Homo sapiens: one gene and its partners. The protein of the gene in region 2 interacts with the protein of the main gene of each other region in a biochemical or structural test. Each region holds a gene or a part of one and is shown on either strand. Other genes may lie near its edges.

What was found.
Region 1: the proteins of RAD23B (region 2) and PAQR3 form a complex in vitro, tested with the Homo sapiens proteins (one study listed by BioGRID).
Region 3: the proteins of RAD23B (region 2) and POLI form a complex in vitro, tested with the Homo sapiens proteins (one study listed by BioGRID).
Region 4: the proteins of RAD23B (region 2) and UBXN6 are reported together in a solved structure, tested with the Homo sapiens proteins (one study listed by BioGRID).

The regions. Positions count from the first base shown.
Region 1 is NC_000004.12:78,929,244-78,936,579, forward strand, and holds part of PAQR3 (progestin and adipoQ receptor family member 3), read right to left. Parts: intron 6,041-7,336; coding exon 5,878-6,040; intron 3,417-5,877; exon of another isoform or gene 3,343-3,416; intron 1,083-3,342; coding exon 927-1,082; intron 1-926. UniProt on the Homo sapiens protein: Golgi-scaffold protein which modulates its interactors acitivies by anchoring them to the Golgi apparatus. Functions as a spatial regulator of RAF1 kinase by sequestrating it to the Golgi apparatus.
Region 2 is NC_000009.12:107,299,993-107,307,328, reverse strand, and holds part of RAD23B (UV excision repair protein RAD23 homolog B), read right to left. Parts: intron 7,189-7,336; coding exon 7,107-7,188; intron 5,295-7,106; coding exon 5,215-5,294; intron 951-5,214; coding exon 682-950; intron 1-681. UniProt on the Homo sapiens protein: Multiubiquitin chain receptor involved in modulation of proteasomal degradation. Binds to polyubiquitin chains.
Region 3 is NC_000018.10:54,279,485-54,286,820, reverse strand, and holds part of POLI (DNA polymerase iota isoform a (long)), read right to left. Parts: intron 6,155-7,336; coding exon 5,918-6,154; intron 3,985-5,917; coding exon 3,806-3,984; intron 3,079-3,805; exon of another isoform or gene 3,006-3,078; intron 2,900-3,005; coding exon 2,808-2,899; intron 1-2,807. UniProt on the Homo sapiens protein: Error-prone DNA polymerase specifically involved in DNA repair. Plays an important role in translesion synthesis, where the normal high-fidelity DNA polymerases cannot proceed and DNA synthesis stalls. Favors Hoogsteen base-pairing in the active site.
Region 4 is NC_000019.10:4,454,734-4,462,784, forward strand, and holds the start of UBXN6 (UBX domain-containing protein 6), read right to left. Parts: upstream 3,062-8,051; 5' UTR 2,965-3,061; coding exon 2,882-2,964; intron 569-2,881; exon of another isoform or gene 488-568; intron 1-487. UniProt on the Homo sapiens protein: May negatively regulate the ATPase activity of VCP, an ATP-driven segregase that associates with different cofactors to control a wide variety of cellular processes.

The DNA of each region.
Region 1 (7,336 bases), on a different chromosome or scaffold from region 2:
TATACTGCTCCTGAGGGAGAAGCTCAGTCTTGGTTCTGAAAGGGAGGTAACTAAAAGGGCAAAAGAAAAAACAAGGGCATGGTAGAAAAACAGGAAGAAAACAAAGTAGGGTCGAAGGGGACTTTCTGAAAGGGAGAACTTGAGATGTACTGAAACCATGGGAACATTGAATTTGTCTTCTTGGCTGGAACATGAGGTGATGAGTTAAGGGTTCTACTCCGTAAGGTTTGGTTGGCCAATATTTTTAGGTCAGGTGCTGTATTATCTGATTACAGTGTTGCAAATGCTGCTTTGCACAAGGCAAAAACTGACTTTTGTGTGAACTTAGTGACAGAAAGCAGAGTTGATCCAGAATTCAGAAAAGACACATCTCACATTTGTTAAAGACACTGACTCCTATCTGGTCTGTCTTACAAGCCTACCCCCAAACATAAGACTGAAGACAGGAAAACATATTTTACAGAAGAATATGGGCTAATAAATTCAGATATATTTTCCTGTATTTTTTTTCACTGAGAGGAGAAAAAAGAAATGGTAAGCAGTAACCAACTTCATAATTTTAACAAGTGTTAATTTTAACTTCAATTCTATAAACACACAAATAAAAGATATATAATGTGCATATCTGAGGAACCACGCAGCCATATAGATTTAGTGAAAACATTAATAATTTAATGTCTACATTAAGTTTCAGAAAATAACTGTATATATATTTTCCAATAGAAAATTAGTAAAGTAAGTATGGAACTGATAACAGATGTTAGAGATGACAGGGCCATTCTGAAAAATAAGTTTATGCTTATACGAGACTCTTCTATTTAGTCTATAAGTTAATTATGTACTTATTCAGAAATTCAAAAGAACCAAGGCAAGAAAACCCAAGACCAATATGAAAGGTCGAATGTAAAATGTTTTCATCTACTTACGTTATTACAATAAAATGCGTAAAATACTCCTGAGACATAGCAGCCCAGTATTCCAATAGAAATTCCTGCATAATCTAATGCCATCCATCTTCGACATGTTTTTTCTGACCGATGGCAGGAAAAAAGATGATAGCCCACAGAGCAAAGCATACAGACCTGTGAAAAATAAAAACAAATTAACAAAGTGACTAAAGAAACTAAAGCAACTTATGCATGATATTCAGGGAAGTAGTTAAGAGGCTAGGCTTTCAATTCAAACATTTATGGGCTTGGATTCTAGCTCTGTGCCTTACATGGCTACTGTAGAGCTCACTCTACATGTAGAGCCATGTAGAGCCATGAGGGAAAGCCTCAGTTCCCTCATGGGTAAAATGTAGATAATAATAATGAAGGAGAAAATTTAAAATAACTATATTACAAAATGAAAATTATAAATAAATAGCACAGTAATGGGAAAGTTATACAATGCAAATGTTTTAAAACTATCATCTGAGGCTTGTTTTGATCCATGAATTAATTTGTTTTTAAAGAGTATTTACTATAGAAGCAATATATAGCCTTAAAAAAATCAAAGAACATAAATATAAGCCCCTCTTACTCAATCTATTCCCCAGAGGTGGCCAGTGATAACATTTTTTATGTGTCTTTCCAGATATTTTCAATACATATGTCAAACACCTGTGATATATTAGTCTATACACATGCACACATTATATATATATATATATATATATATACACACACATTTTAAAATTAAATGAAATCACACTATGCATTCTGTTCCACAATTGGCTTTTTTTCAGTTAAGAATGTTCATGTCTGTATGAGATTCATTGTATAGAGTTTACTTTTAATTTCTAAGGTAAACACAGTTTTATTGCCTTCAAGAAAAAACAGGCTGGTGTAGTAGTGGCTCATGCCTGTAATCCCAGCACTTTGGGAGGCCATGGTGGGAGGATCTCTTGAGCGCAGGAGTTCGAGACCAGCCTGGGCAACATAGGGAGACCTCATTTCTTAAAAAAAAAAAAAAAAAAAAAAAAAAATTGGGCATGGCGGCATGCACCTGTGGTCCCAGCTACTTGGGAGGCTAAGGCAGGAGGATTACTTGAGCTTGGGAGATCGAGGCTGCAGTGAGCCGTGACTGCCCCACTATACCCCAGCCTGGGTGACAGAGCTGTGACTGCCCCACTATACTCCAGCCTAGGTGACAGAGTGAGATCCTGTCTCAAAAAATAATAATAATAATTTAAAAAACAGTGATGACTTGCTAACTTTATATGGTTGCCAAACTGAGAGTAAAGCTAATCTGATTCAATCAGCTGTTCTGATAATTGATAAGGTTCTATGGCAGAATGCCTTTCAGCTATTAAGTACCTGCTGTATGTCATACATTGGAGGTGATACAGAATCACTGAACAAACAGTACAGTAACAAATCCTACTGTACTTCAGTGCACAGCATAATTGGAAAAGGTGGGAGGATATTGACTCTGTGGAGGTACATGTGCATTTGGAGGGTGGGACTGGTGGGAAGAAAAGTATCAGAGAAGGGCTGTTCACCTGAGGCAGATTTTAAAAGTTGGGCTGGCATTCACCAAGGACATAAAAAAAGGTGTGCACATATTTATGGCTGGGGGCAGGGATTAAGGAAAAGCATCATATTCTTTATAATATGATTATGACATTTCCTATACATTAATGGGTTTTAACTTCAATATTATGGGTATGATAAGATACTCCTGAAGATTTTAAGTGCCCCCCAACAGAGGTGTGGACTAGAAGGGCTGAAACAGGAGGTTACAGAAATAGCCCTGGAGAGCAAACACTGAGACAGTGACAGTGGGGTGGAGGCAATGGGACAAATAAACAGTATAAAGTAGTTACAAATGATAAACATTTTGTAAGCTATTGCTAAGGCAGTAACATGGTCATCTAGCTATTAATATTTTATATTCTGGTCATTAAACAAATCTAGTTACTATAGACTCAATATCAGTATTCAATAACAATGTACTTTGCCACAACTTCATTGCTTCATCAATTGTCTAAAATCCTTAATAGTCTATAGCTTTTTGGTTACTAAGCAACCAATCAGTAACTAATTCTAAGTTAGTTATTTAAACGTAACTCAAAGAAGTTTGGTTATTTGTTTTCTCAGATTATCCTTGAGATTAAGCACCATAAATCAGGAGAACATAAAAGTGTATATTTCTCATTGATGGGGAAAGATCCCATTGCCACAATGTTGAATGACACAAGGGCAGGTCGCAAAATAGCAAGCAGAGATGACTGTAGCTTGGAAGTAGGTAGACAGGTAAGGGAGCAGGCAGGTAGGCAGGTGCAAGGTAGCTATGCATACACAAACATACGCATTTGGGTTAAACTCATTGTTTAACGCAAATGTCCAATGTGGTTACCTCTGAAAAGTGGAATTTCAGGTGACGTTTTCTTCCACAAACTTCTGTTTGCCTAAATTTCTACATGATTATATCTTGTAGTAATAATTAGAAACAAACATAAAGCTCATTTCATTGTGAAAAAGAAAATAAAAAGAGGAAAAAAAGAAACTATGGTATCCAAGGGAAAAGTAAAATAGCATTAACAGAAAACCCCAGATTTTAAAGTTAACCCATACCTAGTATGCCCTGTTTAAGAAGGAATATGTTATTCCTAGAGTTTAAAAATGGACTGAAAGATAATCTGGCAAATTGGGTATGTTTCAGTTATAATGGAAAGTTTCCTTCTATGGAGTACCTCACTCCATCAAGGTAGACAGATAATTACAGTGTTACATTCACATCGAAACTCCTTGGCATGATAACAAAATACCTCATGATTTGATCCCTGCCAATCTCTTCAGCCTTATCTTTCTCCATTCTCCTAGGTTTCAACCACAAAAACTAGTACCTGCAAGTCCAGAAAGTGCTAAGAAAGTGTGTCTTGCTTCTTTTTTCCTGCTTAAATGCCCTGCCTCACTGTCTCTTCTGCACACCTACGAGTGGCTTGACCTTTATACCAGGTTGGTTCTGTTCAGCACTGTTTTACCGATGCCTTGTATAGTGTCTGGATGTATATAGGACACATTCAACAAATATTTGTTAACTGAATGTAAATGGATCAAATCAAGGCATTATTGTATTCTAACATTCTTCTCCAAAATACAAATACCCTGGGAAGGTTCAAAGCCCCTCAATTACATTCTATTGTTCAGAATGTACTCTATTTATCTGGTTGCGAGGAAAGCACTAAAGCATACAGAAGCATAGGAGTGAGAAAAATGTTATGTCTTTTAATATTAAATGTAAATCAATATTAATAAATATATCTATGGTTTACTATACTGTCCACTGACCCTAAGAATCTGGAAAACTCAAGTGAACAAGTTATAATTTGATAAGAAGTGGTCTTTTCAAGTAGGGAAGATGTGCTCATCTGTCTTTAGTAAGTTGTACAGCATGTATTGTAACAATGATCATTGCACTAGCAAGTAGGAGAACAGGATTTTACTGCCCTGCTGAATAATCCTGGGCAAGTCACTGTAATATTTTGGGTCTGTTTCTTTATTGGAAATTGTTGTAATTATTTAATCCTTTTTAGTTTTGCAATGTATTGTTTTCTTAGGTCAATACTGAAATTGATACATATTCTCTGAACTAACATCAGCTGTGGCAGGTGGTGAAGGCATAAAGAATAGGCCTAGGGATGGAGGAAAAGAGCAGGGATTCTCAAAGTAGATAATATGCATATAACTAACAAGAATAGAAGCCAGTTTTTACTTAATGATTATTAATAGCATGTTAATCTATACTAAGATGCACCTAAAAATTTAAAAAGAAATTGATTCATTTCCATTATAAAATTGGTTATGGATTTCAAGGGATATTTTGGCTGTAATCAGGGCAAAAATTAAACCTCAGAAAGAGTTTATTTTTAAAGAATATTTGAAGGAAAAATAATTTTCTAATAACAAAAATAGATTATGCTTTCCCTCAAAGAAAATTAAAATATTATTCCAAAAATTGGAATTAATAAAAAAGGGGAAGAGAGATTTGTTTTGCTGTGTTTCTTGGCCATTGAAGTCCAAAGTTTAAACTTGAGTAAAATGATGACTCTCTGAAATAAAATGATACATGATGAAAGCGACATTTGTGCAGCTGAGTTATGAGATTCACCTCTCAAACTCAGCAGCAACAGGCTAACTGCAGGGAATAGCTACTCTGTGTCTGTCATGAGAAAGGGGGATAATAAGTTTTTCATTTTTGTGTTTTTTTATGTTCTCTGAAGCAGAAAAAGTTGTTTTAAATGTCAACAGAACTACAGTCCACATTTGTTTTCTGATTCAAAATTATCTGTTTGAAATCTAATAAATGTTAACTTTTAAAGACATTTTTACAGATTCTTGAAAAATGCCAGTGCTATGGAACTAACAAATACAGGAGGTAGAGAGGAAAAGAAACAACGTATTTGAAGCCAGGCCAGTGGGTTCAAAATAAATTAACATTAAAGCAACAGAGTAAAAAATCAATACCAGCAAAACAGGACAGTAAAATATAGTATGGAAATAACAAATACAAAAATCACAAACACAAACAGGAGGAAAGAGATGAGAAATCTTCCCAAACAAGTTTTAAGTAGGCACTAGTGTTGTACTTCAGCCAGATAATAGAATGCAATCAAAGATTCCTATTTTTTTAATTAATCTTAAAGCAGAGGTGCCCCAAAAGAAGAGGAAAGAAACAAATTCTTCTCAATCTTTGTAATTTAATGGATTTCAAACATACTCTCATAAGAACACATCGTTTGGTGTTTATGTTATGAAAATCAATAAGCTGACCAACATGCCATTCCGGGGCTCTTTAAAGCAAGTGGTAGGTCTGAGGTAAGGTCACCTGACCAAGACTGCCTGTCAAAAAGTTCTCTTTACCAACAGCAGTATTTGTGAAATGACTTACCTGGAAGCAGAAAAGACAAATAGAACAAATTACAAAATCTTCTCTGGACGCACTTGCTGAAGGTAACACAGATGTCATGTCATATATTCCCAGGGTGAAGAAGAGAAAGAAACCCAGCAAATGACTCCAGATGTTTACTGTCTCATTAGATAAAATAAACAAACTGGAAAATAAACACACATGCAACTGAGATTCACATTGGCCAACTTACTGTCACGTTCAAAGGTTAGGGACAATTTTGAGGAGTTACCTAATACTTGCTCCTTTAAGCTCTTACCCCACCTGTACCTTTCTAAATTTGATATATTATCTAATTAAATTATTCTAAGTTTTTCTACATCGCCACCAAGTCTGGGACCACAGTTTTTTGGGTGCTCACCTCTATTATCATACTTACCATTTCCTTCTCTGTATTAAGAGATTTACATACAAATTCCATCTCATCTTCCAGCCTATCAATTCCCTAATGGTCAGTACCATTCATCTTTATGACACTACTGTTCACAATGCCTTGCTCAGATTAGTCTATAGACTAAAGGTCTCCAGAAATGAACGTGCAGAGGAAATCTGGATGTTAACTAGCACACTCTATCAATAATACGTATCTGAAAACCTGCTCAGTGCAAGGTTAGGCATCATCTTAAAATACTTTCCTAGAGCTCATTAAATACAAATGCAAAATTAAATGGATTTAAGAGAAGCAAAATAAATATATATTGATCCATTGGAAAGGTTCTTTAAGATAGGCATGCCAGAACAACTTTGCCGTGGATGTTTTAAAACTAGTCTAGTTTCCAGGTGGCATAAGTTTCTCCTTTTCACAAACAACTGGACTTAACTTTTAATATGGGTACTACGTGCTCTCTTTCAAAATGCCCTGGGCTAACTGGACTTGGCAGCACAGGTTGCTAGAGCGTGTACCACCCTGAGTCAAGAGGCTCACTGTCCCCACCCTACACAAGTCACTTAACCTCTCCCGGCTTCAGTTTCTTCATCTATACAGTAATGGAGCTTCATTAGATGCTGCTGCAACTTTCTTCTAGCTCCTTTCTTACTTTTGTGAAATGGTTCTCCAGATGTAGATAGGACTCATCTGATTATTTACTGAAAGGTGACATCATGACTAAAGATTAAAATACTCTTGCATTTGTCTGCAAAATCTCGTATTTTTGCTTAAATTTAGGTTTTTGGTCTTCACTGATTCAGAAATCCTTGACATAATGACATTGACATATAACTCTAAATTTGTAGCAGTCACTGTGGTTCTCAGGTTCTCATTTTTACAAGAAATGGAATTTCCTATTTGCTTTGCTTCTCAACTTCATTTCTTGTAACAATGAAAGTGAGAACCATAGTGACTGCTACAAATTTAGTTATACGTCAACGCTTACTAGTAAGGATTTCTGAATCAGTGAAGGCCAAATACATGATGTATATAGCAAGGTGTCAAAACTATCAA
Region 2 (7,336 bases):
CCTAACTGCCTAAGCAGCCACTTAGTTGAGGTGTCTCTGCTGTCAACTTCCCACAAGAAATTATTTCTTGCTCCTCAAATATCTCAACACTCTTTTCCTTTTTTTTCCCCTAAAGATCCACACAGGCAGAAGCCTGAATTTCTCACAAGTTCACAAAGATACAGATACAACAGTGAAAAACTGAAATAGTCCATAGGTTCAGGTTACAAGAGCTAACAAATGTCAGAACCAAACACAATGCTATATAACTACGGGAAAGATTTACTAACATGGAAGGATGCTTATGATATATATGACAATGACCACAAAGAATACAGATCAAGTACAAATGATGATCAGGGTGGCAATGTCATGATGTAATCCTTATTCATTTTGGTTATTTGTATTTCCTAACGTTTCTACTCAAAAAAAAAAAAATGACTTTCACCTGCTTTCTCCTTTCCACTGCCCCCCACCCTGCCCAAATCAACAGAGTACAGAAATCTGATTATGAAAATTTGTACTTATATTCTCCTTAGTAAGCTATCAAAACAGACGCAGCATATGTTTTAGTCAAACATTTAAAAAAAGCTTAACGTAATAGATATAGTCGGTTTGATCAAAACAATAATCAAAATAAATGCATGAAGTTCCTGTTAAACACGGATTTTGAGATAGAATGTCCTAGAATCCAGTTCCTACCTGTCAGTTGCTGTTGGGCTAGTAGCCACTGGTGTCTCTGCTGGCTTTTCTGCAGGCTTCTCTTGTTTAGCTGCACTAGCAGGTGCAGGTTCAGAAGATGCTGTCGCTGATGCTGGAGTGATGGATGCAGGTGTGGAAGTGGGGGCCAAGGCAGGGACAGGGGTTGGAGCCTGAGCCACAGTTGTGGTGGTGGAGGAAGTAACTGCTGTAGTGCTGGCAGGAGCTGACTGCTGAGTTGTAGCTGGTGCTGGTGTGGACACTGCTTTGGGCTAAACACATTAAAAGACAAAATAATTACAATAAAATACTACATACTGCCTGATCTCTAATTAGACTGTACCGTTACAGGATGCCACAAACATAGCACTAATAACAACCTATAACTTGAAAATAATTTTGTAAAATGACACAATAAATGATCAATATTAACAATCTGACTCATGGTTACTCTTTCAAAGCTCATGACAGCGTATGTTAATCTTAACTATCAACCACAATTAATTTTACCCAACAATTTCCATCTTCATATCAAGTTAATATAAAATAAAAAATTTGAAATATATATAGATATATAGATATATATATATATATATATAGATATAAACCGTATCATTTTCCCAAAAAAACTTTATGTACCTAAGTTGTAACTTTAAGGTACCTAATACCACTTAAAAGCATTAATAAAATAATTTTCTTTAATTTTAAAGACAGGGTCTTGCTACCTTGCCCAGGCTGGTCTTGAACTCCGGGCCTGAAGCAATCCTCCCACCACGGGCTCCCAAAGCGCTAGGATTACAGGCATAAACTACTACATCCAGCCCAAAATAATGTTCTTGAAATGGCAGTATAAATGTTTATTTATAAACATGTCAAATATTCTGTTGTACTGTATTTTTAGAAGAGGGAGGAAAATCCCAAAATTGACTACAAATCAACAGATCCAAGTACAAAAAGGTTCACAATACTTTCAGACATATATGTAATTAAGCAGAAAAATAAAGGCCAAATTAAGTTACCTCCACACGCTCAGCACTTTCTGAACTGGAAATAGAGCCATAAAGCTTCCCACAGAGCAAAAAAACAATTAGTTGACCCTTGAACAACAAGGGTTTGAACTGCACTGGGTCCACTTACATGATAATTTTTTTCAATATAAGTTACACTGAGTGTGCCTGCCTCTCCTTCTACCTCCTCCATCTCTGCCACCTTGAGACCGCAATACCAACCCTTTCTCTTTCTCAGCCTATTCAGTGTGAAGACAAGGATGAAGACCTTTATGATGATCCACTTACACTTAATGAACACTAAAAATATTCTCTCTCGTGATTTTCTTTTGTTTCTTTTTGAGAGAGGTTCTCACTCTATCGCCCAGACTGGAGTGCAGTGGTATGATCACAGCTCACTGCAGCCTCAACCTCCCAAGGCTCCTGCCTCAGCCACTGCCCCCGCCCCCAACACCAGGTAGCTGGGACTACGGGCTCACACTACCACTCCCTGCTAAATTTTTGTATTTTTTTTTTTTGTAGAGACAAGGTTTCGCCATGTTACCCAGACAGGTCTCCAACACCTGAGCTCAAGCGATCCGCCCACCTTGGCCTCCCAAGGCGATGGGATTACAGGCATCAGCCACCACACCTGGCCATGATTTTCTTAATAGTTTCTCTAGCTTACTTTAATACAGTATATCATACATGTAACATATAAAACATGTATTAATCCACTGTTTACGTTATCAGTAAGGCTTCTGGTCAAGAGTAGGCTATTAGTAGGTAAGTTTTGGGCAAGTCAAAAGGTATATGCAGATTTCTGACTGTAGGGGAGAGGCCAGCACTCCTAAGCTCAGTGGTGTTCAAGGGTCAACTGTACATGTGTAAAAATCATACATGATTTTTAGTCTTCTCCTAAGGCCTCTCAATGCTCGCTACCTGTTTAGTTCATAACTTTCCCAAGGACAAAAGGTAGCTGTTTTAGTGGAAGACAAGGCTTAAATTCAACATAATTTGCCACAGGCATAAACAAACTCTAAAACCAATGAGCTGCCTTGTCTTTTTGATTTGAACTAATAAAGAAGACACTAGGAAAAAGGTTAGTGAAAGGTGATAGGTTTTTAAAAAATACTAGTAGCATTACTCCCTTCTTTTCCTATTTAGCTTAACTTTCTTAACAGCCAATATAATATTCTGCAGATTATTACTGTTCTAAAACTAAAATGAGCTGAAATCCTGAGATCATTCTGGATCTTCAGTTATTCTGGATAAACTGGAGCTTCACAAAGGTGAAAATTTAGAGTCTTAAGCACCAAAACTTTATAATAACCAATCTAGATAAAAATGTATTTTTAAAAGTGGTATACTCATTTAATATTTTCCTTAATTGTTATCAAAATAATATTGCAATGTAACTTCCCTTCAAGGTTCCTACTGCCAAGAACAGCTACTTATACTTTATTCTAAACAGTACCAAGCCCTTCTCTGCTTTTTAGTTTTTATTCTTGCTTTTGATCTTAATAGCTTTTTCCTTTCCCTTCTTTGTATTAATAAGGTCATTTCTCAGTGCTTCCATAATGCCTTACTGTAGCAGCATTCCCTCCCTTTTCATAGTTGTCCTCTATTAACTTCAAATAAAACAATCATAAATATCATTAGAATCCTATGTAATATTAGGAATAAAAGACTTTAAGGAAAAACAAAAGGACTGTATGCAATATAATGATAGGCTTCAAGTATCTATTCCTCAAACACACGCACCTATTGAGACTTTTTCTGCTTAATTCTTGTGTTCTAAACAGTCAGGATCACTGTAATATTAAAAGAAACTAAGACCAGTAACAAAACATATTTAAATGTGTGGCTATCACATTTCCCATTATGTACTATGTATGCTAAAACTAGATAGGAAAATAGGATAGTATTCAGTCTTAAAAGTTCAGCAAATTCTGGCACAAGCTATAACATAGACAGATGAACCTCAATGACATTATGCTAAGTGAAATAAGCCAGTCACAAAAAGACAAATACCATAGGATTCCACTTATATGATGGTGATAGCTGCAAAACAATGTAACTATAATGTTATTGAACTGTACACTTAAAATGATTAAACTGGAAGTTTGTTATATTTTACCACAGTTGAATAAAAAAACCTAGATGATACAAGGTTTCCTCACGATTCTGCTTGTTTTTAAACTTAACATATAATGACTTAAGTTCTTAAGTATAGCAAAATCAACATGGTTCTTAATGAATTAAAAAATGTTCAACACTTGTAAACTATTTAGCTGCTTGCTCCCAGTACAAAAGCATGTGGTAATTAGAATTTATTTCTTCGACTCTATTTTCTATTACTATTAACTATTTTGTGACTTTGAGAAAAAACCCACATTTAATCCACTTTTGGCCTTTGATGAAGTGGTTTCAATTAGTGATTTAAACTCATTTTCAGTGCTACAAGTAACACTGTTCTTTCTCAGATTATGACAATCCAATCCTAAAAATGAATGTCATGAGTACCACTTCTCCATTTGTCTCTTAATTCTACACTGCATTATATATCTTTAAATAAACAAGTATATAAATAGTCTCTTAAAAAAATCCATGTTCATTCTCTGCTTTAAAAAAAATTTAATTTTATAAATTGTTCCAAATACATTCCAGCCTACTAAATCACAAAAAAGTATCTGTTTAAAACTTCCAGGCTGGGCGCGGTGGCTCACGCCTGTAATCCCAGCACTTTGGGAGGCCGAGGCGGGCGGATCACGAGGTCAGGAAATCGAGACCATCCTGGCTAACACGGTGAAACCCTGTCTCTACTAAAAATACAAAAAAATTAGCCGGGCGTGGTGGCATGCGCCTGTAGTCCCAGCTACTAGGGAGGCTGAGGCAGGAGAATGGCATGAACCCGGGAGACAGAGCTTGTAGTGAGCCAAGACAGCGTCACTGCGCTCCAGCCTGGGCAACAGAGCGAGACTCCGTCTCAAAAAAAAAAAAACAAAACAAAAACAAAAAAAACTTCCTCATAAAAATCATTCCATCATTTCTTTAGTTATCTTTTCCCTTTTTTTAGTTTCTAAAAACATATTCTTTCACTAAGAACTATCACTGTAATAATAAGCTTTCATGCCTTTTCTGTCTTGAGGAATCTGTTAGGACTAGTACGTAATTTAGCAGGTCTATTTAAGGCAAGCTTACAAAAACTACAGAATAAACATTTATTCCACTTATAAAGACATTTTAAAAGAATTATATAATGATTTCACTACTGTAGCAAAAATAATTTTAACATGACATTTTATTTTTCAATTGTTTTAATTTACATAAAATTTTATTAAAACTATATTATAGTTTAATGTGTAATTAATGTAAAACATTAATAACTTTATGTTTCACTTAAGGTAAATTCTTAAAAACCTTTCATAGTAGTTAAGTGTACACCACTATGGATGTGTATAAACTGTGTCCATTGTGTGGACTTGTGATCATCATTTTTAAAAAGACCTACATGCATAAAGATATACAGAATGAGGTTGAAACTTACTTTGGTCACCATAACCACCACAAAGTTTTTCTCATCAATTTTATATTCTTTGAGAGCAGTATCATCATTGAGGATTTTGCCTAATACATTAAGAGAAAAAAAAATCATTTAAGGCATAATCTTTCTCTTACACTTCAGTTAAAACAACTTTCTACTCGAAATATGAATATTTCAGAAATATTAAAATATGAATCACCAACATAAATTCTATCAGTTAATACTTTTCCCAAAGAAAAACCAATCAATCAAGATAAAAATAAAACAACTCCTAAGTGGCAGGGCATGGTGGCTCACACCTGTAATCCCAACACTTTGGTAGGCTGAGGAGGAAATATAGCTTGAGGCCAGGAGTTTGAAACCAGCATGGCCAACATAGCAAGACCCTGTTTATGAAAAAAAAAAATTCAAAATTAGCCAGGCATTGTGGCACATGCCTATGGTCCTAGCTACTTGGGAGGCTGAGGCAGGAGGATCACCTGAGCTCAGGAGTTCAAGGATACAGCGAGTATAATCACACCACTGCACTCCAGCTTGGGTGACAGAGCAAGACCCTCTCTCAAACAAATAAAACTAAAAAGCATAAGCATTTGACTAAAAGATGTCAAACTTATATAGTGTATATAGAATGACAATCAATTTTTACAAATGTATTGATTATATAAAAGACTTACTGGGCAAGGAAATATGAAAGAGGCCCTGAAAAGGAGGAGATCATGAAGATAAAGAAAATTCAATACTCCGATTGCACAGGGGTCCTCTGGAAAATAACCTATATTCTTTTATGATATGAAGAAAGGGAGAGAAACAAATTTCCTGCTCCCCAAAATACTGATATCTGATAAATCAGAAATGTTCTAACACTATCAAAGCAAGATACTAAAAGTACTTCAGAAAACGACATGATACACAAGAAAGGGCAAGATGCTACAGAACTTAGAAATGCACGAAGTACACAAAACTGTGGTCGTGCTGAAGGTCACTATTAGGTAGCTAGGACTCTCTAGTGTTTCTTGCTACATGAATTTAGTTTTCCACCTTTAAAAAGCTATTGAATCAAAAGCTGCTAACATTAAGTCAGAAAGGAATATGGATAGGAATGAGAAAACAGGCCAAAACAAGAAACTGGAAATTTGAATTTTATGTCCGCTTCTTTAGGCTTCTGAATTCTGACCTATAAAAATAATGGGACTGAATCACCAGGTTAGCATTTCCTCCAGGCTGTCTCACTTTAGGAAACACTATTCAGAAAAAGAGAAGAATCCATGGGTGATCAAACACCCACCTTACTAACATCTACAATGAAAGCATTTTCTCTAAAAATTTGGATATCAAATGTATTTTTAATATACATTTTCCTGGTTATTAGTGAGGCTAGTCAAATGTATAATTCCTACTCTTATCCTTTGTTGCTTTATTGGTCATCCTTTCCTTACTGATTTCTAAGAATTCTTTACATAATCTGAATATTAATTTTTTTTCTTCCTGTAGGTGTCTGTGTGATGTGTTTTTTCTGTACTCTTCAGTTAGTTTTGGTTAAAATAATTTTACAGGAATGATTCCAAGCATACTAATAATAACACAATCAGTATAAATGGTTTCAATTCAATTTAAAAAAAAAAGCTCCGTTTGATTAAAAAAACAAAAGCCAGTTACACGATGCTTACAAAAGATAAAACAAAACTAATACCATTTGATGGAAAAATACACAGGGCAAATGTGAATAAAGAGAAGATTGAATATTAATATTAGATTCAAATGACTGCTCTTTCACTGCTTTTATTTGTACAATCATTTTTCTGACAATTTGAATATACTACAATATATAAGATAACATTTCTAAAACTAAAAGAATATCAAGACATGGCATGTTAATTTTAATATTTAATTCATACCTGCATAAATTAATTTTTGACCTGCTACTGGAAAGGCATCTTTCCCCTTTTCAGATTCAATCTTCTCTTTCAGTGCTTTCACCTATAGGAAAAATAAAGATTTGTTTTGGAAAAAGTCTAAATAAAAAATGACAATCCAGAATCTGAATAAATAATGGAAGACAAAAATTATATACATAATTATTAATGTTTCCAAAACCTCAAATATTATGTTTTTCCAATTTATATCA
Region 3 (7,336 bases), on a different chromosome or scaffold from region 2:
AGGCATGTGTGACCACACCTGGCTAATTTTTGTATTTTTAGTAGAGAGGTGGTTTTGCCATGTTGGCCAGGCTGGTCTCGAACTCCTGACCTCAGGTGATCCCCCCACCTCAGCCTCCCAAAATGCTGGGATTACAGACGTAAGCCAACACACCTAACCAAAAGGCAACAAATTAAAATCAGCAGGAAATTTAAGAAACTGAATCATTCACTGACAAAAGCAAATAAGTGAAAAATAACAAAAGAACTTTTTTCAAACTTTTTTCTTACGAGATTACCAAAAAAAAGATTTTTTTTTACAAAATGACATTACTTTTGTTAAAGAGTAATCACTATTACCATTATATGATAGCTTATTAGAGCAATATCTTAAAAGAGCATATACTATATTTAGTATATAATTAATATACAATATGAGTACATGCATTTTTTAGAAGAGTTTCATGCAAATGTCTTGGTTTTGGTGTTGAAACAAAGGTTTTAGTGATATGACAAATTCACTTAAGTAGTACTGGAAAAAATGTCATTAAAGGATAACATTTCCCTTTTTATACACATGGCAATGCATATAAAACCAAATCTCAAACATAAAATGCAAGTATTGCACATTGTTAAACACACTCAACTTGAAGATTCTGATCTGAAAAAAATAGTTCTGGGCCAGGCACGGTGCCTCGTACCTGTAATCCCAACACTTTGGGAAGTTGAGGTGGGAGGATCACTTGAGCCCAGGAGTTCAAGACCAGCCTGGGCAACATAGCAAGACCTCATCTACAAAAATTTAAAAATTAGCTAGGCTTGATGGCAGGTGCCTTCCCAGCTATTCTGGCGGTTGAGGTGGGAGGATTGCTTGAGCCCAGGAGGCTGAGGCTGCAGTGAGCCCTAACTGCACTACTGCCATCCAGCCTGGGTGACAGAGCAAGACCCTATCGCAAAAACATAAAAAATTAAATAGTTCTGTAGTAAATAATTTTTTCTATCTCTTACTGCTTTGTGACAAAACTTCTCGATGGCTGCTTAACTAGGATAAAATACCTTAAATGGTTACTAGTTTAAATATCTTCCAGTTAAACGTGTTATATTAATTATGCAATTCAAAGAGTATGATATGCTAATTAAGACACATTAGAAAAAGGCTGTATCGTAAGCAATCTTAAACTAGTGCCTAGAGGATGGATTAAAAATAATACGGTTTTACATTTCTTACATACCTATAGTATTAATCATAACATACTCTAGAGAAAACAAAACTAATTATACACAAATACACACACACACACACACACACACACACACACACTCCTGTAATTTTTTTTTTTGCAAGTCACTTAGATGGTGTTATAATTCAGTCACTGAAATAAGGGCCCGTGGTGTGGGAGAAAAGGAGCCGGGAAGCAGAGATACAGACAAATGGTTAATTTCACAGGTTTTGTATGTCACAGGTTTAGAGCACCTGGTCTCACTTCTGGGTTGACTCTTCAAATAAGAGAACCTGTAAAACTTATACTTCTTGTGGTTTTTCTATGTGAAGAACTGTCTCCAAAGGTTAGGCATTTCAGGGTAGTCTTCTATTTAGCTGAAGCAAATGACCCAGTTTCACTAGCATACTCGCAGGCCCAGCCTGAGTCATATCACGGGAGGCCAGTCATACAGCCAGCCCCAGCTGCATGCAGCCAACAATGAGCTGCATGGCTCTGCTCAAGACATTTGAGTGCCACATTGCACACGACAGCAAAGTTGGAGGAAATTTCACTTCTTCAGTTTTCTCAGACTTAGAACCAACCAAAAACCATTTTCTCTAAATACAGTTAGTCCTCCTAGAATCATTAGAGAAGCACACCTACTCTAAACTGTTAGAGCCCTGAAACCACAATTTGAGAAATTTCTAACAAGAAGAGGAGAAACAAAGAAATGGGACGAAAACAGATAATACTCATCTGTGGAATATGGAATATTGAGAAATACATGTATAATGACAAGGAGCACCACAAAATTAAATTTCCTTTTCAGTTTATCTTGTACTACTCATATATTTATAACCCCAGTTGATACTCTTTACATACAGATCAGAAACCCTGCACACACCTGCAGTCACTCACCCTACTCACACACAGCGCCAGCTAGCCATTCTTTCCTTCGACTCCATTTTATTTTACAGTCTGAGGCAAAAGAGATACAAGGGTTCTTCTGCTTCTTCCATCACTGTTACTTTAATAATTTCCTATCCTCAACAATCACAAATTTATATAGTTGTTCCTGTATCAGGAGTTTTAGAATTATGACAGTATTATTCCTCTTTGCATTTTTTTCTTCTTAATGAAATGCAAGTAACTATTAGCAGAGGCACAGATAAATGGTTAATTTCACGGGTTTTGTATTTCGCATGTATTTGTATTTAGCATGGTACTAACTTAATGAAATGCAACTAACTATTAGGTTGAGGGCAGAGGCTTTGCAATTGCCACAGGGAAAAATTAAAACTTCTTCTTCTCACCTGAAGACCAGAATAAGTCTAGAAATGTTAGAAATATCCATAAAACCCCTTTAGGTAACTATCTGCAGCTTTAGATCCATAGCATAACCACAGTGTTAACAGAATTAAGACCAATGAATTCAATTTAGGTAAGACCCCCTATTACCATCTTTACAACAGTTTATAAAGCAGAGAAATCCCATGATAAATTATTTTTACATTGTTTAGTCTCCAGATAATCTGTCAGTTCCAAGATGGAACATCAAATATTCTTTCCACATACCGTATATAGAATGAATACATAGGATGACTTGGCAAAATGGATTGAAAATCACCTGTTTAAAAGACTAGCAAGTAGTTCTTCAATCTTATTTTTAGCTTCAACTTCAGATGAACATTTTTTAAATGAATCTTCTTCACTAAAGGACTATCAAAGAAGCATAAATAAGGATTAGCACAAACTCAAATAACTATATCTAATTATTATCAGTGTACAGTCAAATAAATATTCAATACATTCTTCACTAACTTACCTCTTGTCCTTAGTTTGAGCCATTTAGTTCACTTTTATATTAACAGTTTTTTATCTGCAAGCTATTGTACTCACTAGAAAGTTAATATAAAATATTACTGTATTAACAGTTAATATAAAACAGTTAATATAAAATAATTCAAAGTTATGAAAACTCTAAAGCTCTAGTACCAACTCCAAGCTTTATTGTATGATTATGGCAAGAGTTCTTAATCACCTAGGACTTGAATCTAAGTTTATCCTTGGACAAGTTATTTAACCTTTCTAAAGTACGGTATCCTCATCTTGAGAGAGAGAGAATGGAAGGAAGGAAGGAAAGAAGAGAAGTAAGAAGGAATGGACAAACAACAGTACTACCTACCTTGATGCTTTGTTGTGAAGATTAAATGGACTAACATATTTAAAGCACTCAGTAAAGTGCTTGTCCCATAGCAAAAAAATCAGTCAATGTTAACTGGGTGATTATACCTTTCCCATTTGCTAAATCACTGGACTACTCTGAAAACAAGATTTTTAACAGATTAAAATATTTTGCCTCATATATGCATTATAGGCTATTAAAATTAAGTTGCACTGTCTTCAATCATAGTAGCTAACTTAAGATATCAAAATATCAATGCTTAAGATTCCATTTAAGAATACTTATTAATCCAATCTATTAATAATAAATCAGCCTTCTAATAGGAAAGGGATCACATACTAAGCAAACTAGAATAGTAAGAACATGGTACTAAAACTAGAAATCTTTATCTCAAATAATGTGATAACCAGTACTTAATTAAAATAAGTATCATCATGTACCTGAGGTGGTCCTGAGAGTATCACAGGGGAGTTATCCTCTCCAAAACTGAGCTTTTGGATACGCTGAGCAACTGAAATTCCTAATTCTTTTTCTAAAATTTTGGGTGAAAAGGTTTGGAGATCACGCACACTATTGATACCCAGTGCTTCAAGACATTTGGCAGTTTTATAGCCAATACCTAAATAAAAAGAAATGCATACAATGTTAAAATAGCTTTTCTCCTTAAAACAAAGCTAATTAAAATATTATAAATATATCAATCTTATCTTTAAGTTCTATAATTTATACAGTAGTCCCCCCTTATCCACAGGGGATACATTCTAAGACCTTCAGTGGATGCCTGAAACCATGGACAGTATCAAACCCTATATATACAGTACTGTTTTTCCCATTACATATATACCTATGATAAAGTTTAATTTATAAATTAGGCACAGTAAGAGATTAACAATAATAATAAAACAGAACTATAACAATATACAATATACAAGTTATGTGAATGTGGTCTCTGCCTCTCTCTCTCAAAATATCTTATTATTTTCAGACCACAGTTGACTGCAGGTAATAGAAACTGTGAAAAGTGAAACTGCAGATAATGGGGGACTACTGTATTTTGCAAAGATCAAACCCCATTGCAAACTAGGTTGCTGTTCTTCCACTCAGGGCTCCTGAATTATATGCACCTCTTTGAAGTCCTCACAAAATGCAGTAAAATAAAATGAATACAGAGACAGCCAATAAATGCTGTCTTACTAAAACAAAAATTTTACCACCTGTTATGTAATATTCCAGAAATATTCAGAAATCATGATTATTATTAATATACAAAAAGGCTGCCACTAGAGCAATTAAAATAAATTAAGTGTACATATTAGGTAACCTAACTGATTCCTATACGCACCACCACACATTTATCCATAAGTCATATCTAACATTTACCATCCAGAATACAACTATGAGCCAGAAAGCAAACAAACAAAAAATCTTGCTAGCAAAACTGTCACAAAGTTCTTGCACTAAAATTCGGTCATACTTTATTCACAAGAGAAAACAGGCTATTTAATGTCTCCTTATTCTTTTCATTCAAAAACAGTAATTCCACAGTTATCTGGTTTTCTTGCACAGTAAAAGCAGTAAGTTGGAGGAGATGGCTATGTAGGGGGAACTATTAAAGTAGAGTGACAGATTTTTCACAGCAGAAAAAAAAGAAGGTTGGCAATTTGGCAATAAGTGAGAAAGGAGAAAGCCTGTTAAAAAAAAAAAAAAAAGATACAAGAACTCGAAAGTAAAGCCAAGTAAGAATGTTTTGCACCAGTATATAGTCCTCAGTTTATTACAACCTGACATTGTTCTTCAGAATGCACTACCAAAGTCATCCAAAAAACTTCAAATTATAGTTATACTATACTAAGGAAGGCAAGGCAGTGTATAATACATTTTGGAATCACGCAAGTATCAGTTAAAAATGTGAAGTATGACATCTAAGTTTCAGTGGTATTAGAAATTCACTTCCACAGAACTCTTTTATAACATCTTATTCCCTAGCAATACCACAGAAATGTAGTTCAACATATTGATGGCCTATAAAAACTTGGGTATTTAATCTTCAAAGATACAAACTTGCCCCATGACCTAAATAGGTCACCGAACTCCTCATGGAAATCAGTTTCCTAATCTTTAAAATGAGGACCTTGGCCTAGATGTTTTGGAAAGTCCATTGTAGCCTTAATATTTTATATGTAATCCCAAAAGAGTTAGTAAAAGACGAACTCCCCTCTCTAGAGGCAATGTACAGTATAAGAGTATGACCCAGGGACTGGAAATAAAGGACCATATGTTTCTAGGCTATAACTTTCATGACCATATTCTAACCATACAAAAGTAGATAAAATAAGAAAAGTACCTTCACATATTTCTTAATCCAAATTTGCTTGAGAAAACATTACAGTTTTTCTTAGTTTTTTCCAGGAACCAAGTATACACACACACACACATGCACACAAACTCACAGACAACTCTACCTAAGAATTAATTACATTGTATCTATAATTTTTTAAATTAAAAGAAATAAAATAAGACGTATATGTACTTTTCAAATATATTTGTCTTACCAGGTATTTCCTTTATGTGATTCAAACTATGAATAAGATGTTGACAACTTTCAGGTAATAAGACTGTTTGTTGATTTGGTTTAAAGACACCAGAAACTAATTTTGCCAACAGTTTATTAGAAGCCACTCCAGCACAGCCAGTGAGCCCCAACTGATTATACATGGCTTCCCGCATCTCTGCTGCAATCTGAGATCCAACAAGTAGTCTGATGTGCAAGACGTCAAGCAGGTTTATAGCTTTAAAAACAACAAATGTCATTCAAAGTCACAAGAAAAACCTTTTTCTTTTTCACAAAATAATTTTTAAAAGGTAGAGGGCTTAGTCTATATCCAACAACCACCACCACCACAACCACCACCATCATCACCTGGTATGGTTGTGATATTTGTCCCCTCCAAACCTCATGTTGTAATTTGATCCCCAGTGTTGGAGGTGGGGTCAAATGGGAGGTGTTGGGATCACAGGGGTGGATCCCTCATGAATAGATTAAAGCCCTCCCTCAGGGGTAAGTTTCTGACTGTATTAGTTCCAAAGACAGCTGGTTGTTAAAAGAGCCTGGCACCTCCCCCAGCCCTTGCTTCCTCTCTCACCATGTGATCTCTGCACACACTGGCTCCCTTTTGCCTTCCACCATGAGTGGAAACAGCCTGAGGCCCTCACCAGAGGCCTAACCTTGACTTTTCCAGCCACAAGAATCATGAACCAAATAAACCTTTTTTTCTTTATAAATTACCCAGTCTCAGGTATTCTGTTAAAGCAACACTAAATGGACTAAGAGATCACTGCCACCCTGTTATCCACTTGACTAATCTCTTTCATGCTTCATAGGAATACTGTAAACAAATTCAATAAGCAAATTCCAAGGGCCTGTGATAGTGACTGTGTAGTGGGAGTGCTTAATAATTAACACATTGTGAAAACTGATCTCATAAAAAAATTCCTACTGACATTGGCAAAACTTTTACTCATATTTACCCGTAAGTAGGCATAGAAGTATTATTATATAACAAGAAAGCTAACATTATACTTTAAAGATCTAAATCTTAACCACGCACTAGCAGTATATGCTGCTAGAAACAATCTCTGACCTGTACACAGTTTTAGAGCTCTTTTATGAAAAGTGTAAGAAAATTATATAAAAATAAATTTGCTTTAGGTGTAAAACAGTGTTGGAATGACATGAAACCATCCTAACCTCAAAGAGACTAACGCTAAAAGTATTTAGAGATGAAATGTCAGGATGTCTGCAATTTACTTCCAAATAGCTCATCAACCAACCAAGCAATCCATAGAGAGAACAAGAGAAAGCAAATGTGGCAAAACGATAACAACTGGTTTATCTACAAGAAAGGACATAATGGGCCAGGAGTAGTGGCTCATGCCTATAATCCCAGCACTTTGGGAGGCCAAGGCAAGCG
Region 4 (8,051 bases), on a different chromosome or scaffold from region 2:
GGAGACTCAAGGGGTGTCACATCCTCCCTCCCTCCCTGCCATAAGACTCTCCACCCTCAGGTCACAGCTTCGTTTGCTGAGCACCTACTGTGTGCCAGGACCCTGCTGGGAGCTGGTCGGCTCGCTTGGTTTACTCCTCCTAACAAGCTGCCAGGGAGGCCTCACCATCCCATTCCTAAACCCAAGAGGGACAGGAAGTCCGGGCGATGTGCCCCATGCCACGCCACCCTCGTGGCGGGACCCTGGGGAGAGCGGACAGCAGAACCAGCCTCGCCCTGGCCACTCCATGCCAGGCCTAGGGCTGTGCAAGTACGAAGAGCTCATGGACTCGTGGCTCCACCCTGTTGAGCCCTACACCAAGGAGAGTTCCGTAACCCACGTGGCACAGTGACCTGGCAGAGAAGCCTCGCAGAGAAGCCCTTTCTCCCAACCTGCTCGGACGCGTCTGTCTCACCCGTCTCCTCTCAGGCCCCTCCCATGAACTTACGGGCTGTGTCAATTTCTGTGCCGTAGGTCTATTAAAACCTTCTGGGAGGCCAGGCTCTCAGTTCAAGCCCTATACTCCTCTGGCTCTGCTTACATACCCGGGCAGCCCTCCCTCCTCGTCCCACCCCTGCCTATCTAGTCCTCCCACAGCTGAGCATCTTGGGTGGAAGAGGAGATGACTCATGAAGACCCACCCCGGCCTCATCCGATATCTGGGTCTTTCCAACAAAATGCCATTTCCCAGGGCACCTCACCCCAACCAGCCATGGACCCTGCCCCCCTGGGCAGCCACAGGGACCCTTCTGGAACCTCAGCCAGGGAGCGTCAGCATCACTCCACTGCACAACGCCCTCCCACTGCAAAATCCTAAAGCTTCCCTTGGCCAGAGAGCCCTTCCCAGCCTGGCCCACTGCCCTCCCGTGGCCTGTCTCCCCTGGGCTCCCCGCAGTTCTTCCCACACCCCAGCTGCTCCCCACTGCAGGCCCCTGCACTGTCTGCACCTTCTGCCCAGAATGTTCTCCGGGGGAGTGGGAGGAGGATGGGGGTCTGGAAAGGGCTAGAGCTGCCGCAGGGAGAGAAGGAGGGGCAGATTTCCCCACAGCTGAGTCTCACTGTGTCCTGGGAGAGGCCTTCCCAAACCACCTGACGGCCCCTGCTCACCCTCCTTGGAGGCCCTGGGCACTCATCCAAGCACTCATCGCCTGAGCGCTCATCCAAGGTCTGTTGGTTTATTTGTCCATCGGCTCCCTCTAGAAGGTGAGCCCTGGGACAGCAGAGGCCTTCTCCTGTCCACCACTGCAGCCTAAAACAGGACTTGGTGCCCACCCACCCCACACACCCTGGATATGCAGTCTCGCTCCACAAGGGACCTCCGCACCGCTTCCTTTCCCAACCTTCCCCTCCAACCTTCCCCTCTCCGCCCAGGCTCTGGGCTGATCCAGCCATCACCCCGATACCCTGCATCCTTCCTATCATGCCCAGTCCCAGTGGCCCCAGCACCCCCCACCCACTATTGGTTGAATCAATGAAGGGCTCCCCCGATTTGCCCCCTTCTCTCCCTGACCCCTCTCCCTCCCTCACTCAGCCTTTGCTCTCCTGCTCTCCCCCAGGAACCCTGACGTCCTCACTATGCCCCTACCTCCATCACCACCCCACTGCCCCGTGATTCCTGACCCCCACTTCCTGCCACCTCCCTGCCTCTCCCAGCCCCCACTCCCTCACAATCCCTTCCACTATTGCTTACAGACCCGTGTCCTGGCTGCCTGGCTGACTTCCTCAGTCCCTCTCCATCAGTCCCCACCACCCTCTGGCCAGCCAGCTCCCTGCAGCGGCCCCAGCTCTCCAGTTTCCCTTTTCTCAACCCAACAGCCCTCAGCCTTGCACCTTCCCTAGCTCCACTTCTTCCCCGGCCCTCCCAGCTGGCTCAGCCCTGCTCAGGCCCTTCTCTCCAAGTCCTCCCTAGACAATCCGGAAGCCTGCCCGGCATCTATCTCCTTTCCCCTCCTCTCCCACTTCCATAATCCACTTGGCACAGTGACGTGGCAGAGAAGCCTCGCAGAGAAGCTCTTTCTCCCAGCCTGCTAAGACGCGTCTGTCTCACCCGTCTTCTCCTCTCAGGCCCCTCCCGGGTAAGAGTCCATCTGTCAGAATCCCTCACCTCCACTCTCCTCACACACCTTCCTCAGCCCCTCCCTCTCAATTCGCCAGGACATCCCAGGTCACTGACGACGCTGCCCACCCCGGCCTCCCTGGCCTTCCAGACTCTTTCTAGTCTCCCATCAGCCTCCCACGTGCTCCAGATACCAAATCCAGAACCCCTCTTCCCATGGATACCTCAAAACAACTCTTCACCACCCCACCCCACAGCTGTGCGTCCTCCTCCAAGCTCAGCTCCCATCCATGGTCACCTAGATTGCCCCAAATCATCCCGGCCTCTTCGGCCAGCCGGGTCCCCAGACAGAGCTCTCCCTCACCACCCGGCTCAGGACTCATGATCCCGTTTTTCCCCAAAGGTCGTTCCACTGACCCCCAACTGCCTACAGCCCCGTCGCCCTAATCCCCCGCCACTGCATCGGACCCTCCTGCGGCCCCGCCCCCGAGACCTCCCCTCCCGCCCCGCCCCCTGCGCTAGTTCCCCTCCCCTCGCCTCCCCCGCCGCGCCCCCGGGTCATACCCGCCCCCTCCTGCCCCGCCCCCAGATCTCTCTCCCCTCCCCCTGACGCCCACCCTCGGCCCGACTTCGTCCGCCCCCGGCGCCTCTCCCCCTCCCCTGACCCTCGCGTGCCGCTCCCAGCCCCTCATCCTCTCCGATCTCCCGAGCCGCCCAAGGCCCCAGATCTCTCTCCCCGGCCGTCCCCGCCCCGCAGGGCCTCAAGCCCCTGCGTTCCTCACGCACCCCACGGACTCTTTGAGCTTCTGACCGGGTCCCGCGCTCTTGAACTTGATGTCGGCCTTGAACTCCTGAAAGAATTTCTTCATGGTGGCGGCTGGCCCGGCGGCGGGGGGCCGCGGGGGCGGGGGGGCACGGGGCCCAGTCGGGGACGGGGCCGCCGGAGACCAGCCACCGGAAGAAAATTAAAAAAAAAAAAAAAAAAAAAAAAAAAATTTACCTCGCCGCCGGAAGTCCCGCCTTCCCCTGGCCTGCCACGTGACAATCGACTAGACGTGCCTCTCTAGCGCTCGGTGCCTTGCTGGCCCAGGGCGGCCGCTCTGTACGCTGGAGCCGCGTCTCTGTGGTTCTTCCGGACTCCGTTGCCAGGGCGACGAGTGCACCTCTCGATTGGAGACAGGGCATTCCGTGGCGCTCCCCAAACGGTGACAAACGGTGATAGGACAGGGACAGGCCAACTGAACCTCGCAGAGAAAGCACTGGGCCCTATCCCTTTCGCTGCTCAACCTAAACTAGGCGCGGTGGCTCACGCCTGCAATCACAGCACTTTGGAGGCTCAAGCGGAAGGATTGCTTGATCCCAGAAGTTGGAGACCAGCCTGGCAACATGGCAAAACCTCGTCTCTATAAAAAAAAAAAAAATAAAATAAAATAAATTAGCCGAGGGTGGTGGCGCGCGCCTCTCAGCTACTTGGGAGGCAGAGGCGGGAGGATCGCTTGAACCCAAGAGGTCGAGGCTGCAGTGAGCTGTGATCAAGCCACTGCATTCCAGCCTGGGCGACAGAGAGAGACCCTGTCTCAAGCAAAACAAAAAAAATTCCAACCTTCTCTGTCTCCCCAGAGCTTACGTGATAAAATCCCAATTCAATGTTGGGTATTGGAGGCCCCCACGATCTGGCCTGTTTTGGTGCCTGAAGCACCCCCCCGCCACCATCACCACGTACCCTAGGTAGGAGCTGTTTAAGAGGATGCACCTGGGCCGGGCGCGGTGGCTCATGCCTGTAATCCCAGCACTTTGGGAGGCCGAAGCGGGCGGATCACAAGGTCAGGAGATCGAGACCATCCTGGCTAACACGGTGATACCCCGTCTCTACTAAAAATACAAAAAATTAGCCGGGCATGGTGGCAGGCGTCTGTACTCACAGCTACTCGGGAGGCTGAGGCAGGAGAATGGCGTGAACCCGCGAGGCGGAGCTTGCAGTGAGCCGAGATCTCACCACTGCACTCCAGCCTGGGCGACAGAGCGAGACTCCGTCTCAAAAAAAAAAAAAAAAAAAAAAAAAGAGGATGCACCCAATGCACCCAATTGGGACCTGGGGATTGGGGATCCACTTTGGTGGACACCAGTTAATAGTGGCGTACTTTGGTCTGTGCAATCCACAAAGAAGATACACAAAGTGACAGTTAAAACAAGCCTCAAAAAATGGGAGTTGGGGGTCAGACGTGGTGGCTCATGCCTCTAATCCCAGCACTTTGGGAGGCCGAGGCCGGCGGATCACTTGAGGTCAGGAGTTTGAGACCAGCCTGGCCAACATGGTGAAAGCCTGTCTCTATGGGCACCGGTAATCCCAGCTACTCGGGAGGCTGAGGCAGGAGAATCGCTTGAACCCGGCAGGTGGAGGTTGCAGTGAGCCGAGATCTCGCCATTGCACTTCAGCCTGGGCAACAGAGGGAGACTCTGCCTCAAAAAAGAAGGAGTTGGAATGAGATACACAGAGACTGATGGAGGAGAAGCCTCCAGGTGAGGAAACAGCCCACCCCAAGACTGAAATTGAAATATCATGGGTTGGACGGGTGGCTCAGGCCTGCAGTCCCAACATTTTGGGAGGCCAAGGTGGGAGGATTGCTTTAGCCCAGGAATTGGAGGCTGCAGTAAGCTAGGATCACGCCACTGCACTCCAGCCTGGGCAACAGAGCCAGACCCTGTCTTATTAAAAAAAGAAAAAAAGGCCAGGCACGGTGGCTCATGCCTGTAATCCCAGCCCTTTGGAAGGCCGAGGCGGGTGGATCACGAGGTCAGGAGATTGAGACCATCCCGGCTAATACGGTGAAACCCTGTCTTTACTGAAAATAATTTTTAAAAAAATTAGCCAGCCTTGGTGGCGGGCGCCTGTAGTCCCAGCTACTTGGGAGGCTGAGGCAGGAGAATGGCGTGAACCCAGGAGGCAGAGCTTACAGTGAGCCGAGATCATGCCACTGTGCTCCAGCCTGGGCAACAGAGCAAGACTCCGTTTCAAAAAAAAAAAAAAAAGGAAAAGAATTGGGCCAGGTGCGGTGGCTCACACCTGTAATCCCAGCACTTTGGGAGGTCAAGGCGGGTGGATCACTTAAGGTCAGAAGTTCAAGACCGACCTGGCCAACATAGCAAAACCCCGTCTCTATTAAAAATACAAAAATCAGCCGGGTGTGGTGGTGTGTGCCAGTAATCCCAGCTACTTGAGAAGCTGAGGCAGCAGAATCACTTGAACGCAGGAGACAGAGGTTGCAGTGAGCTGAGATTGCACCACTGCACTCCAGCCTGGGCGACAGAGCGAGACTCTGTCTCAAAAATAAATAAATAAAGTAAAAAAATAAATAAATAAAAGAAGAATACAGTGCAACCCAAACTTCAATCTTTCTGATCTCCAGTCTCCTATCTATGAAATGGGGATAAGAATAACACTCTCTATAGATTGTAGGGGTGATCATGTGATTAGAAAGTTCTCAGTATGCCGGGCACGGTGGCTCATGCCTGTAATCCCAGCTACTCAGGAGGCTAAGGCAGGAGAATCACCTGAACTTGGGAAGCAGAGGTTGCAGTGAGCCGAGACTGCGCCACTGCAATCCAGCTTGGCAACAGAGCAAGACTCCGTCTCAAAAAGAAAAGAAAAGAAAATTACAGCTCATTGTTGTGAATAAGGAATTGTATACCCTATAACTCAAATAAAGGTACAACACTGGGCCAAAGTCACACAGCTGGAAAGTGGCAGAGACCCATCCCACTTCTCCAAGAATAAAATCCTATGGGGTTCCTCAGCCTGGTCTAAGGAGATCCTAACATTAATAGGCCCTAATAAATTTCTATTTCAGGTTCTAAGTATTCTGAGGGTTTCAGAAACCCCGTTTCTTGTTATCACCCACCTTTCCACCTCTGCCTCAGTTACCTGGAAGTATTTCCAGCTCACCTCTGGGCCTTTGCCTAGGCATTCTCCTTTACCAGAAGGGACTTCTCTTCCTCTGCCTAACTCAATCCTCTTCCACCATGACGCTCTCCTGGACTATCTTCCTCATGTCGGATGAGGTTATGAGATTAAATAATTTAACATTTCTGCCAGGAGCGGTCGGTGGCTCACACCAGTAATTCCAGCACTTTGGGAGGACAACATTTATTTTTCTTTTCTTTTCTTTTCTTTTTTTTTTTTTTGAGATGGAGTCTCGCTCTGTTGCCCAGGCTGCAGTGCAGTGGCACAATCTTGGCTCACTGCAAGCTCCACCTCCCAGGTTCACACCATTCTCCTGCCTCAGCCTCCCGACTAGCTGGGACTACAGGCGCCCGCCACCACACCCGGCTAATTTTTTGTATTTTTAGTAGAGACGGGGTTTCACCGTGTTAGCCAAGATGGTCTCGATCTCCTGACCCCGTGATCCGCCCGCCTCGGCCTCCCAAAGTGCTGGGATTACAGGCATGAGCCACCATGCCCAGCTTTCTTTTTTTTTTTAGACAGGGTCTTACTCTCTTCCCCACGCTGGAGTGCAGTGGCACAATCATGGCTCACTGCAGCCTAGAACTTCTGAGCTCAAGCAGTCCTCCCCACTCAGCTTCCCAAGAAGCTGGGACTGCAGGCATGTGCCACCACACTCAGCTAATTTTTTTTTTTTTTTTTTTTTTGAGAAGGAATTTCGCTCTTGTTGCCCAGGCTGTAGTGCAATGGTGCGATCTCGGCTCACCACAACCTCCATCTCTCGGATTCTCCTGCCTCAGCCTCCCGAGTAGTTGAGATTACAGGCACCCGCCACCATGCCTGGCTACTTTTTTGTATTTTTAGTAGACACAGGGTTTCTCCATGTTGGTCAGGCTGGTCTTGAACTCCTGACCTCAGGTGATCCGCCTGTTTCAGCCTCCCAAAGTGCTGGGATTACAGGCGTGAGCCACTGCACCCGGCCTCCGGGTAATTTTTTAAAAATTGTTCAATCTTGCGCAGTGGCTCACGCCTGTAATCCCAGAACACTGGGGGGCCGAGGGAGGAGGATTGCTTGAGCCCTGATGTTCAAGACCAGGATGGGTAACATAGTGAGACCTTGTTTCTACTAAAAAATAAAAATAACAGGCCAGGCACAGTGGCTCACCCCTATAATCCCAGTACTTTGGGAGTCTGAGGTGGGTGGATCACAAGGTCAGGAGTTCAAGACCAGCCTGGCCAACATGATGAAACCTTGTCTCTGCTAAAAATAAAATACAAAAATTAGCTAGGGGTGGTGGCAGCACCTGTAATCCCAGCTACTCAGGAGGCTGAGGCAGAGAATCGCTTGAACCCGGGAGGCAGAGGTCACAGTGAGCCAAGATCATGCCACTGCACTCCAGCCTGGGCAACAGAGCAAGCCTCCATCTCAAAAAATAATAATAATAATAAATAAAATAAAAATAACACCCTGGGCAACATGGCGAACCCTTGTCTCTACCAAAAAAAAAAAAAAAAAAAATCAGTGCTGGTTGTGCCTCCCTGTAATCCCAGCTACTTGGGAGGCTGAGGCATGAGAATTGCTTGAACCTGGGAGGCAGAGGTTGCAGTGAGCTGAGATCATGCCACTGCATTCTGGTTTGTGAGACTCTGTCTCAAAAAACAAACAAACCAAAAATTAGTGAGGCATGGTGGTGCGCACCTGCAGCTTCAGCTGCTTGGGAGGCTGAGGCAGGAGGAGATCGAGACCATCCTGGCTAACATGGTGTAACCCCGTCTCTACTAAAAATACAAAAAATTAGCCAGGTGTGGTGGTGGGTGCCTGTAGTCCCAGCTACTTGGGAGGCTGAGGCAGGAGAATAGCGTGAACCTGGGAGGTGGCGCTTGCAGTGAGCTGAGATCGCGCCACTGCACTCCAGCTTGGGCGACAGAGCAAGACTCCGTCTCAAAACAAAAAACAAAAAACAAACAAACAAACAAAAAACCATTAAAAGATAAACTCGGCCGGGCGTGGTGGCT